Linked DNA regions of Homo sapiens: region 1 is linked to region 2. The links come from fine-mapping of genetic effects on gene expression. A gene starts in region 2. The other region holds a variant in brackets. All regions are shown on one strand. Distances are between the middles of the regions.

Region 1 (2,917 bases), 53 kb after region 2:
GTTTAGCCGGGAGTGGCGGCTCACGCCTGTAATGCCAGCACTTTGGGAGGCTGAGGCGGGCGGATCACCTGAGGTCCGGAGTTCGAGACCAGCCTGACCAACATGGAGAAACTCCGTCTCTACTAAAATACAAAAATTAGCCAGGTATGATGGTGGGTGCCTGTAATCCCAGCTACTGGGGAGGCTGAGACAGGAGAATCTGTTGAACACGGTAGACGGTGGTTGCAGTGAGCCAAGAAAGATCATGCCACTGCCTGGGCGGTTGAGCGAGACTCCATCTCAACAAAAAATAAATAAATAAAAATAAAAAGTGGACTCAACTAAACAATAACATCTAGGAATGCACACTCAGATGATTAAGTCATGAAGAAATGCAAGGAAGTAATTAATAGTCGGATTAGTGATTATTTTGGGGGGATGGGCTGTGATTGGTATGGAGTACCTGGTGAGGTGGGGAGGGGAACCCTGAGGTGGCTGAAAAAATTCTGTATTTTGACCGGGGTGGTGGTTACAGGGTGTTTGCCTTGATATAACTCACTAAGCTACAATTTTTTTTTTTTGAGATAGTGTCTCACTTTGTTGCCTGGGGTGGAGTACAGTAGTGTGATCTCAGCTCACTGTGGCCTCAGACCTCCCTAGACTCAAGTAATCCTCCTGCTTCAGCCTCCTGAGTAACTGGGGCTACAGGTACGTGCCAACCATGCCTGGCTAATTTATGTATTTTTCGTAGAGATGGCATTTCAGGTTTTGCCATGTTCCCCAGGTTGGTCTCAAACTCCTGAGCTCAAGTGATCTACTCACCTCGGCTTCTCAAAGTGGTGGGATTACAGGTGTAAGCCACTGCACCTGGCTGCTACAAATTTAATTTGTGTGGTTTTCTGCAACTGTTTTGCTCTATAATATAAAGGTTTTAAAAAATGAGGACAGCAACACTTACTTCACACTATGTGTGTGTGCATATGTGTGTTTACATGTACATATACATGTATCTAAATGTATGGTTTCTGTTAGCACCAGGTATGTAGGTAGATGCTCACTAAATATGACTTCCATGTGAATTTTGTTCAAAACACTGACCCGTGTGATTTCAGCACCATTACCGACATTACTAACTTGTGTGGCTAATTAAAAATAGTTCATGCTTCCCAACTGGGGCAGAGACTGGAAAAATAAAACAAAATAAAAAATCGTTAATGGTTATTAGGTGATACTATGTGCCAGGCACTGTTTCCAGTGCAACTAATCTAATTGAATCCTTATAACTGTATTATGATTATTCCCATTTTACAGAGAAGAAAACTGAGGCTTAGAGACTTTCCCTGTGGCCACACAGGAGGTGGCAGGGCAGCCTGTTTTGTTTTGTATTATTTTGTTTTGAGGCAGCGTCTCACTCTGTGGCCCAGGCTGGAGTGCAGTGGCACAATCTTGGCTCACTGCAACCTCTGCCTCCTGGGTTCAGGCTA[T/C]TCTCTTGCCTCAGTCTCCTGAGTAGCTGGGATTACAGGGACATGCCACCACGCCCAGCTAATTTTATTTGCATTTTTAGTAGAGATGGGGTTTCGCCATATTGGCCAGGTTGGTCTCGAATTCCTGGCCTCAAGTGAGCCACCCGCCTTGGCCTCCCAAAGTGCTAGGATTACAGGCATGAGCCACCGCACCTGGCCAGTAGCCTGGTTTGGAACCCAGGCAGTCTGGCTTTCAGCTCTGCCCTCTCATCCACTGTAGCATATGTACCATACTGTTTTTTACTTGGTGTCTAGTGCCCCTGTTTGCAATAATAACTCCCCCTTATGGAGTGCCTGCTAATATGTGTGCCATTCTTTGACATTCACTACCCGAATCTCACATCAACCCTGGAAGGTGAAGGTACTTGTTAGTCTGCATTTGGTGGCTAGGAAAACTAGAACTCAGAGAGCTGAAAAACTTGCTCAAAGTAACAGAGTAAGTAAATGGCAGTAAGTGATGGAGGAGGAGTTTGAATTGGGGACGGGGAGGGTTCATACTCTGACCCTTGGGATTCTAAAGAACAAAGTGTCCTATACTCTTAAACAGATGCTCATCTGATGGGTCTGACCCAGTTTGAGGTCATGCGTTGCCCAACCAGTGGTCCGGAGCCTGGCTTGGCTTGAGAAGTGTCCAGACGCAGGCTGGGGGAAGTCAGAGGCTTCGCAAACACCAGACATGTTTGACCCCAATCAGAGGGTCGTGCAAAGCTTGTGACCCCGGGCCTGGGGTTCCCTAAGGAGCGAGAGACTCCTGTTTCTCCATGTGCCAGCCTTGTGCTCACAAGCTGCAGAATCAGGTCCTAGAACGAAGCTGGCCACCTCTCGGGACAGGGTAAAGAGATGCCCATGGGTTGGCTGTGCAGATTTCCCAGAAGTGGGAAGAACCTGGCTGTGTTTTTGTGGTCACACATTGATTTCCTAACCTGAGTCAGCATGGCTGCTTGGAGGTACAGTATGTCCTCTCTGTTCCCAGGGGCCCTGGATCCCAGCCTGGCTGAAGCATTTCCAAAACAGGGCCTGGAATAGTGAGGGAAACGGAAGGGGTGGAGATCCCAAATCCCCTCCGTCAGTACCAGCCACCCACCGTTGTATTAAAAACGCCCAGCATGGACTGAGTTCTTACCAGGTGCCAGGTCCCGTGCTAAGCATGTCATATGTATTCACTTAACTAACCTTACAGAGATGCAATGGAGTAGAGGCTCTTCCATTTAACAAAGGAGTAAACAGACTCAGAGAAGCCACATCACTTGTAAATGGTCCCACGGAGATGGAATTTGCAGGTCTGTGATTGTGGAATTCTGGAGTGTTAGCTCCGCAAATTCACTACTTCACTCAGCCCTCACCACAAACCCCCACCCAGTAAGGTGCTGCCACCCGCAGTAAGGATATGAAAAAACTGAGGCTGGGGGTGGTGG
Region 2 (2,917 bases):
TGTGAGTAGTTCTCTTTCTTCTTTCATCAGCCCTTTTCATGGCCTTGGGCAAACTTTGAGCCTCATTCCATTTCTGTAAAAGATGAATTTGGAATACATTTTCAAGGAATCCAGGAAATAACATCCCCAAATATGCCACACTGGTATGATGATTGCTTGGGGAACAGCACATGGAGAGAGGGGCTTTTCATGAATTTCCCTTATCAGACTAAAGGCTGACAATCCAGAAGGAATTCAATTATGAATCCCCTTCCAGAGAGTTTTATCTATCAGGGAAGATTAACACACCACAGGAGAAGATATTGAAGTGTGACACCTTGTTGTCCGGACATCATCATTGTTTGCCACATTCCACCTAAACTATTATATGTGTAAGTAAAAAATGTTTTCATTTTCTTCTTTAAGTGAACTCTCAAATTTGACATGTATTTTGAAAGGAATATTTACATCACTGCTTAAATGGGAAATCAGCATTGCTCGGAAGAAATGAAAAGGTTATTGCTAACACACACCTCAAAACAAAACAATATTTTAAAACTGCAGGCATGGTTGCCTGTTTGAGAGATCTGGAAAATGAAGGCTTTACTCTGTTAGAAAGGGAGATAAATACTAGAAAAATGTTAAATACCATACTGGCCTCAAACAACTAGCCTGTTGGTTTGAAATGGGACGTTCTCACTCTGCTGTTTAATATCGCTTAATGTCCTTCATGCACCCTTAGAGCCATTCATTTTTCCCAAATGGGGTGCATCCCACATTTTAGGATACGATTTCCATCGTTTCTAGGTTAATTTGGACTCATCCTTTAGTTCGCAGATTAAAAAATAAATCCTTCAGAGAAGCCTTCCAAGACTACTGCCCAGCTAAATTACTTTCCCCTTACAATAGGAGGCACTAAATACACCTTTATTGAAAGCCTATTCCCCCATACTACTTCATCGTATTCATTACATTGGGGCACGGTGCATTTATGTTGTCAGATCTCCTATTAACTAGAGAATAAATTCTGAGCGTACTGTGCCTCTCTGTACACTTCTGTAACTTCCAGATCTTTGCACAATGAATACAAATGATGTAAGGAATGACACCTTCACAGTTCCTGCAACCCCAGGATGGTTTAGCCCCACCTTCCCCCTCAGCCAATGACAGGCGCCCCCCTCTGCCGCTCCGGTCGCGGACGGTGGGCGGGGCCACGCCGTGACGCATCCGTGCGTCTGTGGAAGGCTGCGTTTCCGGCCTGAGAAACCGTCATGTTTCTGGGGAGTCACCTCAGCTGGCAGTTACCACCGTGTTAGAAAGCAGCCTCAGGACCGGCCACCTCCATCACTGGCGTCACCATGGGGGCTGTGCTGGGTGTCTTCTCCCTCGCCAGCTGGGTGAGTTCGGGGTCCCGAGTCCTCGCCGGACCTGCGGTTTGCGGGGAAAGGCCTCGAGACCAGAGCTGCACGGGCCTTGGCTCCAGAGGCTCTCGGGATGTCAGCAGGCCCTGGGCTACAGAGGGTCTCCGGGGCCCCAGACGCAAATCCGCGATACCCTCAGGTCCAGCTTAGGCGGCTCGCCCTCCGGGTTCCTCGGGGAACGGAAGAGGCTAGGCCGCCATTGTTTACAATTCGGATGGCTCCGCCCTGCGAGGCTTCCTGACTAGGTTCCTCTGGAGCTGGAGAGGGACCAAGGAATGACAGCTCCCAGCGAGGGGCTCCGGTTCCTCCCGAAGCACCTCTTAAGGTGCCATCATTTAGTTCTAGGTGGCTCAAGTAATATTTTTATCCCCTAGCACGGGATTTGCCAAAACTACAGAGTGTGTGGCAAAGCTGGGGTTTTAGCGGAGGCTTGTCTGCAGTTCAGGTGCAAGGGAAAGAAGCCCTTGTGGATTGTTATTCAAAATTGGAAACCAGGGCCTGAATATTTTGGGACTGCTGTAAGTCATTTATCCGAGGATAATCACCCCAGCATTCCTCTCTTCGAGAACGATTGTGACAGTGAAGTGAAGGTTTAATCACCTTGTAAACTGTAAACATTTTAAAGAGAAAATTATAGGGCCTATAAAAGAATATGCTGAGTTCCCTCATTTACCCACTTCAGAGGAGCGTGATTCCTTGATTCCTCATTCTCCAGCTGATTTAATTGACCAAGTGTGTAGAAAAAGCACACTCAGTTTCTCCTGCTGTACTCACAACACACTTTTGACACCTGATGTGTGGTGTGTGGGGATTTTCCCCCAAACATCAGGCAAACAGTCAGCTCTGCAGGGGATGCCAACTTGGTGCCCTACAAGTCAATTCCGAAGCTCTCTACTTGGAGATAGCATCAAATCACACAAGTGGAGGGCTCAGTCTCACAAGACTGTGCCCACTTTCTGTGCCAATGGCAAGCCTCAGGTTGTTTTACCTGTGCTTCTGACCGGCCACCTATAAATCAAAGTTCCCGTGACCTCCCTCCTTGGCTTTGATTAATTTGGTCACAAAACTCAAGGAAACATGTTTACTGGTTTATTATAAAAGTATTTTATTTTGTGTATTTATGTATTTTTAATTTTAGATTCAGAGGGTACATATGCAGTTTTGTTACATGGGTATATTGCCTTATCGTGAGGTTTGGGTTTCTAATGATTCCGTTGCCCAAACAGTGAACACAGTATCCAACAGGTAGTTTTTCAACCCCTATCCCCCCACCGTCCTTCCCCACTCTTGGACTCTCCAGTGTTTATTGTTGCCATCTTCGTGTCTGTGTTCCCAGTGTTTAGCTCCCACTTGTAAGCGAGAATATGCTGTATTTGGTTTTCTGTTTCTGTATTAATTCACTTGGGATAGTGGCCTCCAGCTGCATCTTTGTTGCTGCAAAGGACATGATTTTCTTCTTTTTTTATGGCTACTATTAATATATTTTTAAAGATACAGATGAAGTGATATGTAAGACA

The links. PIP is the estimated chance that this variant, and not a neighbour inherited with it, causes the effect. A credible set is the group of variants that fine-mapping cannot tell apart.
Region 1: its variant is the best candidate, but not a certain one, in a credible set for the expression of SERINC3 in whole blood (INTERVAL, PIP 0.61).

Annotation. Positions count from the first base shown.
Region 1 is chr20:44,466,947-44,469,863 of GRCh38, reverse strand. No RefSeq gene overlaps it. Among named protein-coding and RNA genes, the nearest start is that of LINC01620, 3.1 kb to the right of the region's middle. The variant T/C (reference allele first, on the strand shown) is at 1,464.
Region 2 is chr20:44,520,372-44,523,288 of GRCh38, reverse strand. SERINC3 (serine incorporator 3) reads left to right here and starts at 1,219. Exons shown (of 10, transcript NM_006811.4): 1 at 1,219-1,376. The coding sequence starts at 1,338. RefSeq lists enhancers at 1,027-1,321, 1,228-1,537, 1,456-2,008.